2 linked regions of the Homo sapiens genome follow. The gene in region 1 interacts genetically with each later gene. Each region holds a gene or a part of one and is shown on either strand. Other genes may lie near its edges.

Region 1 (3,652 bases):
GCGCCCGCGACCACGCCCAGCTAAGTTTTTTTGTATTTTTTTAGTAGAGATGGGGTTTCACCGTGTTAGCCAGGATGGTCTCGATCTCCTGACCTTGTGATCCACCCGCCTTAGCCTCCCAAAGTGCTGGGATTACAGGCGTGAGCCACCGCGCCCGGCCATTTTTTTGTATTTATTTTTAGTAGAGACGGAGTTTCACTATGTATTTTTAGTAGAGATGGCATTTCTTCATGTTGGCCAGGCTGGTCTCAAACTCTTTTTTTTTTTTTTTTTTTTTTGAGATGGAGTCTCGCTCTTTTGCCCAGGCCGGACTGCAGTGGCGCTATCTCGGCTCACTGCAAGCTCCACCTCCCGGGTTCACGCCATTCTCCTGCCTCAGCCTCCCGAGTAGCTGGGACTACAGGGGCCCACCACCGTGCCTGGCTAATATTTTTTGTATTTTTAGTAGAGACGGGGTGACTGTGTTAGCCAGGATGATCTTGATCTCCTGACCTCGTGATCCGCCCGCCTCGGCCTCCCAAAGTGCTGGGATTACAAGCGTGAGCCACCTCGCCTGGCCAGTCTTGAACTCTTGACCTTAGGTGATCTGCCCATCTCAGCCTCCCTAAGTGCTAGGATTACAGGCGTGAGCCACCGGACCTGGCCTGTTTTTGCTTTTGAGACACAGTTTTGCTCTGTCACCTAGGCTGTAGTGCAGTGGCACAATCATAGCTCACTGTAGCCTTGAACTCCTGGGCTCAAACGATCTTCCCACCTCAGCCTCCTGAGTCGCTGGGACTACAGGTGTGTGCCACCACGCACAGCTAATTTTCATATTTTTATGGTAGAGACGGGGTTTCACCATGTTGGCCAGGTTGGTCTGGAACTCCTGACCTCAAGTGGCCCACCCCCTTGCCTTCCAAAGTGCTGGGATTACAGGCATGAGCCACCGTGTCCGGCCGTTGGTCTTAAACTCTTGAGCTCAAATGATTCTCCTACTTCAGCCTCCTGAGGATTACAGGTGTGCATCACCATACCTGGCTTGGCTTTTTTTTTTTTTTTTTTTTTGAGATGGAGTCTCGCTCTGTCGCCCAGGCTGGAGTGCAGGGGTGCAATCTCGGCTCACTGCAAGCTCCACCTCCCGGGTTCACGCCATTCTCCTGCCTCAGCCTCCCGAGTAGCTGGGACTACAGGCGCCCACCACCACACCCGGCTAATTTTTGTTTTTGTATTTTTAGTAGAGACGGGATTTCACCGTGTTAACCAGGCTGGTCTTGAACTCCTGACCTCAGGTGATCTGCCTGCCTCGGCCTCCCAAAGTGCTGGGATTACAGGCCTGAGCCACCGCGCCTGGCCTCTGAGTTTTCTGTTTGTTTCTTTTTTTTTTTTTTTTGAGATGGAGTCTCGCTCTGTCGCCCAGGCTGGAGTGCAGTGGCACGATCTTGCCTCACTGCAAGCTCTGCCATCCAGGTTCATGCGATTCTCCTGCCTCAGCCTCCGAGTAGCTGGGACTACAGGTGCCCACCACCATATCCAGCTAATTTTTTGTATTTTTAGTAGAGACGGGGTTTCACCATGTTAGCTAGGATGGTCTCGATCTCCTGACCTCGTGATCCGCCTGCCTCAGCCTCCCAAAGTGCTGGGATTACAGGCGTGAGCCAACGCGCCCGGCCTCTTTTGTTTCTTTTTTTTTTTTGAGACAGAGTCTCACTCTGTCGTCAGGCTGGATACAGTGGCGTGATCTCGGCTCACTGCAACCTCTGTCTCCGGGTTCAAATGATTCTTCTGCCTCAGCCTCAGCCTCCTGAGTAGCTGGGACTACAGGCACGCACAACCACACCCGGCTAATTTTTGTATTTTTAGTAGAGATGGGATGTCTGAGTTTATTTTTTAAGAGACAGGGTCTTGCTCTGTCACCTATGGTGGAGTGCAGAGGTGCCACTGTAACCTCAAATTCCTGGGCTCATGTGATTCTCCTGCCTCAGCCTCCCAAAGCACTGAGATTATACGCACGAGCCAACTCACCCATCTTGTTTTTTAAAATGAAATCATTTTCTAAAATGGCAAATAGACTAAAAAAGGAAAAAATAAGCAATCACAATAGAATGTTGTGGAAAAAAACAAGTGACAGCTCTGGGCCAGCACAGTGGTTCCCACCTGTAATCCCAGCACTTTGGGAGGCCAAAGCAGGCGGATCACCTGAGGTCAGAAGTCCGAGACCAGCCTGGCCAACACGGTGAAACCCCGTCTCTACTAAAAACAAAAAAATTAGCCAGCTGTGGTGGTGGGCACCTGTAATCCCAGTTACTGAGGAGGCTGAGGCAGGAAAATCGCTTGAATCCAGGAGGCAGAGATTGCAGTGAGCTGAGATTGTGCCACTGTACTCCAGCCTGAGCAACAGAGTGAGACTCCATCTCCAAAAAAAAAAAAAGTGGAAGCTCCGAAGAAACCAGCATGAGTTGGAATTTTGATCCGACCACTTCGTAGGTGTGTAACTTGGGCAAATCTCTGAAATGCTCCATGTCTTGGTTTTCCTCCTCTGTAAAATGGGATTATATTAATGGCCACCTCAAAGTAAGGCTACTTCTAGGGTATACAGAGCCCTGGATAAATATTTCTTGTAGCCAGGTGTGGTGGCTCACGCCTGTAATCCTGGTACTTTGGGAGACCAAGGCGGGAAGATTGCTTGAGCCCAGGAGTTTAAGACCAGCCTGGGCAACATAGCGAGACCTCATCTCTACCAAGAAAAGATATAAAAATTAGCCAAGCATGGTAGCTCACGCCTGTAGTCTCAGCTACTCAGGAGACTGAGGTGGGAGGATCACTTGAGCCCAGGAGCTGGAGTTTGTGATAAGCAGAGATCGTGCCACTGAAGTCCAGCCTGGGTGACAGAGTGAGACCCTGTCTCTAAAAAAAGAAAAAAAAAAAAAAAAGGCCAGGTGCGGTGGCTCACACACGTAATCCCAGCACTTTGGGATGCCAAGTCGGGCGGATCACTTGAGGTCAGGAGTTCAAGACCAGCCTGACCAACATGGTGAAACCCCATCTCTACAAAAAATACAAAAATTATCTGGGCATGGTGACACATGCCTATAATCCCAGCTACTTGGGAGGCTGAGGAATGAGAATCACTTGAACCCGAGAGGCGGAGGTTGCAGTGAGCCGAGATCATGCCACTATACTCCAGCCTGATGACAGAGTGAGACTCTGTCCCCCACCCCCAAAAAAAAAAAAAAGGGGGCTTGGCGTGGTGGCTCAAGCCTGTAATCCCAACACTTTGGGAGGCTGAGGTGGGCGGATCACGTGAGGTAAGGAGTTCCAGACCAGCCTGGCCAACATGGTGAAACCCTGTCTCTACTAAAAATACAAAAATTAGCCAGCGTGGTGGTGCACCCCTGTAATCCCAGCTACTTCGGAGGCTGAGGCATGAGAATCGCTTGAACCCAGGACATGGAGGCTTGCAGTGAGCCGAAATCTTGCCACTGCACTTCAGCCTGGGCGATAGAGCCAGACTCAGTCTCAAAAACAAAAAAGGACTGGGCGGTGGGGGGCGGGCGTGGGCGCAGTGTCTCATGCCTGTAATCCCAGCACAGTTAGGGAGGCCAAGGCAGGCAGATCACCTGAGCTCAGGGGTTCGAGACCAGCCTGGCCAACATGGTGAAACCCCATCTGT
Region 2 (3,652 bases), on another chromosome or scaffold:
ATTAGTTAGATACAGTTTGGACACACAGGTTCTCCAAGGCCCCACCAGAGCAGCTAGATACAGAGTGTCGATTGGTGCATTCACAAACCTTGAGCTAAACACAGGGTGCTGATTGGTGTGTTTACAAACCTTGAGCTAGATACAGAGTGCCGATTGGTGTATTTACAATCCCTGAGCTAGACATAAAGGTTCTCCACGTCCCCACCAGAGCAGCTAGATACAGAGTGTAGATTGGTGCACTCACAAACCTTGAGCTAAACACAGGGTGCTGACTGGTGTATTTACAATCCCTGAGCTAGACATAAAGACTCTCCACGTCCCCACCAGACTCAGGAGCCCCGCTGGCTTCACCTAGTGGATCCCGCACCGGGGCTGCAGGTGGAGCTGCCTACCAGTCCTGCACGTACGCTTGCTTTCCTCAGCCCTTGGGTGGCTGATGGGACTGGGCGCCCTGGAGCAGGGGGTGGTGCTCGTCAGGGAGGCTGGGGCCGCACAGGAGCCCATGGAGTGGGTGGGAGGCTCAGGCATGGCGGGCTGCAGGTCCCGAGCCCTGCTGCGCGGGAAGGCAGCTAAGGCCTGGCGAGAAATCGAGCTTAGCGCCGGTGGGCTGGCACTGCTGGGGGACCCAGTACACCCTCCGCAGCTGCTGGCCCGGGTGCTAAGTCCCTCATTGCACGGGGCCAGCAGAGCTGGCCGGCTGCTCCGAGTGCGGGGCTTGCCAAGCCCACGCCCAGCCGGAACTCCAGCTGGCCCGCAAGCGCCGCACGCAGCCCTGGTTCCCGCTCGCGCCTCTCCCTCCACACCTCCCTGCAAGCTGAGAGAGTGGGCTCCAGCCTTGGCCAGCCCAGAAAGGGGCTCCCACAGTGCAGTGGTGGGCTGAAGGGCTCCTCAAGTGCTGCCAAAGTGGGAGCCCAGGCAGAGGAGGTGCCGAGAGCAAGTGAGGGCTCTGAGGACTGCCAGCACGCTGTCACCTCTCACTTGTGCAAGTATTTTGGTAAGATCATTTTCTAAAAGTAGGGATTCTGGGTCAAAGGTTATATATATTTAAATTTTTGACAGATATTACCAAAATGCCCTCCAAAAAAAAAACTGTACTGATGTAGATTATCTGTAGCCACGGAGGACACACTTCTCCATCCCGCCCTGGATGATACTGGCTACTACTTACCTATCAACTGTGTTTCTCTGCTCCAGTTCTGCCAAGACCTATGAGGCCTTCCGGAGAGGGAGGCCTTGAACTCACACCCTTGCTTTCATCTGCTAACAGCATTACATGTAAAAAATATTCTTTTTAGCAAAGAGTGACAAAAGGTGCTGCTGCTAAACGGAGTATGAAAATCACTGCACTACAAAATGCCCAGAACGTGTTCATCCACTCCCGAACCCTCGACACGGGGACCACCTCCCCAGTCAGCCTTCCTTCCTGTACTTGAGTTTCCTCCCTCCACAGTTACCAAGTCATTCCTGCCTGGAGTCTGGCAGATGGCAAATATCCAGCATAGACTTGCTGTCAGCAGGGGACGGGGGGAGGGTGCAGTCCCACCTACACACTCTACTGGCCACGCTAGGACCCCCAGGCTTGCACCTGTGTGCCCCCTTCTTCCAGCCACCATCCTGCCAGCTCCATCTCCTCTAGACCAGCCACCTCCCATTGCCACTGCCTTCCTGTGGACCCAGGTCCTCCCCTCTTCTGAAACACTTCTGCCCCACCTACCTTTAGAAACCCAAGTCTGAGCAGGTCACTATGCTGCTTAAAAATCCCAGATGGCGGCCGGTGGCTCACGCCTGTAATCCCAGCACTTTGGGAGGCTGAAGTCAGCAGATCACTTGAGGCCAGCCCCGTCTCTACTAAAAATACAAAAAAAAAATTTTTTTTTGTATTTTTACAAAGGCGTGGTGGCGTGTGCCTGTAGACAGAGACGAAACCCTGTCTCTACTAAAAATACAATTTTTTTTTGTTTTGTTTTTTACAAAGGCATGGTGGCGTGTGCCTGTAGTCCCAGCTACTTGGGAGGCTGAGGCACGGAAATCAAGTGATTCAAGTGAACCTGGGAGCCAGAGATTGCAGTGAGCCAAGACACGCCACTGTACTCCAGCCTGGGCGACAGAGTGAGACTCCATTTCAAAAATAAAAAATAAAATAAAATAATTCCAGATGGCCTCCTACCCACAGATAACACCTTTCAGGCAAATTCAAACTGTGAAGGAGACCCCCCCAGTGCCACCACAAGTGCTTCCAGCCTTCCTAGGCAAAGCTTCCCACCCTTCCCAGGACCCACGTAAATGCTTGCCTGGCATTTCTCACGCCCACTAAGGAAGTGCTGACTCGCGAAGGCCTGCCTTCGTGGGGCTTGCCTCTGCTGGGGCCCACCTTCTGGTTATAAGTCATACTGAGTGGATGGAAATGACATGGCAGAGGAGTGAAGAGGCTTTTAGGCAGACTGGAAACACCTCATCTGAGCAGTCTATGAACACCCCCTATCTGTGGCTGCTCATCCTGCTCCCTGGGGTGTGGCTGAGGGAGAAGAAAGTGAACGGCAGAGGCCTGCAGTAACTGCATGCGGACTATCCCCGGGAAGCCAGTGTGGGCACTTAGCGGGGGCCGCTTCCTGCACAACCCGGGAACGGGTCTCAGCTGGCATGGAAGGCCAGGGCAGATTAAAATAGATACTTGAGTGGGAAGAAGACAGTCAATAACACCCTGTTCCCACAAAAGAGGTCTGGCTGGGGCTCTGAGGTCTTGCTGACCTGCTGAAGCGGCCAGGCCAAGCTGGAGGGGCCAGACAGCGTGCTCATCACTTGAGCCCCATCTGTGGTGGCAAGGACGGCTCCCCTCTACCTACCTAGCAGCCTTAGACCTTGTAAAGAATTAAAACATTGAATTTAAAAAATGTTTTTAAAGTACCCAATGTCGACAGATTACTCTTACAAAGTGAGCCAAAACCATCACGCAAGGCAGCAACAACTGTAATTCAGAAGGCCTAGGCTGAGCTACTTCATTCCAAACTCAGATTCAAATTTGTTAAGTTTGAAGGAAAAAATAATAATTTTCCCCAATCTAACAGACCCCATTTCATTACTCCTTTATGATGCATTTTTAAAATGTAGCATCTATATATATCAAGAAAGTCTCAAAGTTGGGATTTATAATATTTCTTATAGGCATGAAAATGGGATTTCTTTTCCCTTTCCTCATTCTTTTTTTTTTTTTTGAGATGGAGTCTCGCTCTGTCGCCAGGCTGGAGTGCAATGGTGCGATCGTGGCTCACTGCAACCTCCGCCTCCCGGGTTCAAGCGATTCTCCTGCCTCAGCCTCCCTAGTAGCTGGGATTACAGGCGTGCACCACCACATCCAGCTAATTTTTGTATTTTTAGCAGAGACAGGGTTTCACCGTGTTGGCCAGGATGGTCTCGATCTCCTGACCTCGTGATCCACCCGCCTCGGCCTCCCAAAGTGCTGGGATTACAGGTGTGAGCCACCGTGCCCAGCCTCCCTTTCCTCATTCTTTAAAAATAACATAAATGTGTAGTTTAATTTTTCATTCAACTGCGGGAAAGACACTAGAAGAGATGAAAGTGCTATGGGTTCCAACTCCAAGCAGGGCTGTCCCAGCCAGAGCACTCCCAGAACCAGGTGGGTCCCTGGGGGTAC

The links. A genetic interaction does not mean that the proteins touch.
Region 2: changes in KEAP1 (region 1) and MED9 together harm fitness more than expected from each alone (negative genetic interaction), as found in Homo sapiens cells (one large-scale study listed by BioGRID).

What each region holds. Positions count from the first base shown.
Region 1 is NC_000019.10:10,493,302-10,496,953, forward strand, and holds part of KEAP1 (kelch-like ECH-associated protein 1), read right to left. Parts: intron 1-3,652. UniProt on the Homo sapiens protein: Substrate-specific adapter of a BCR (BTB-CUL3-RBX1) E3 ubiquitin ligase complex that regulates the response to oxidative stress by targeting NFE2L2/NRF2 for ubiquitination.
Region 2 is NC_000017.11:17,483,496-17,487,147, reverse strand, and holds part of MED9 (mediator of RNA polymerase II transcription subunit 9), read right to left. Parts: intron 1-3,652.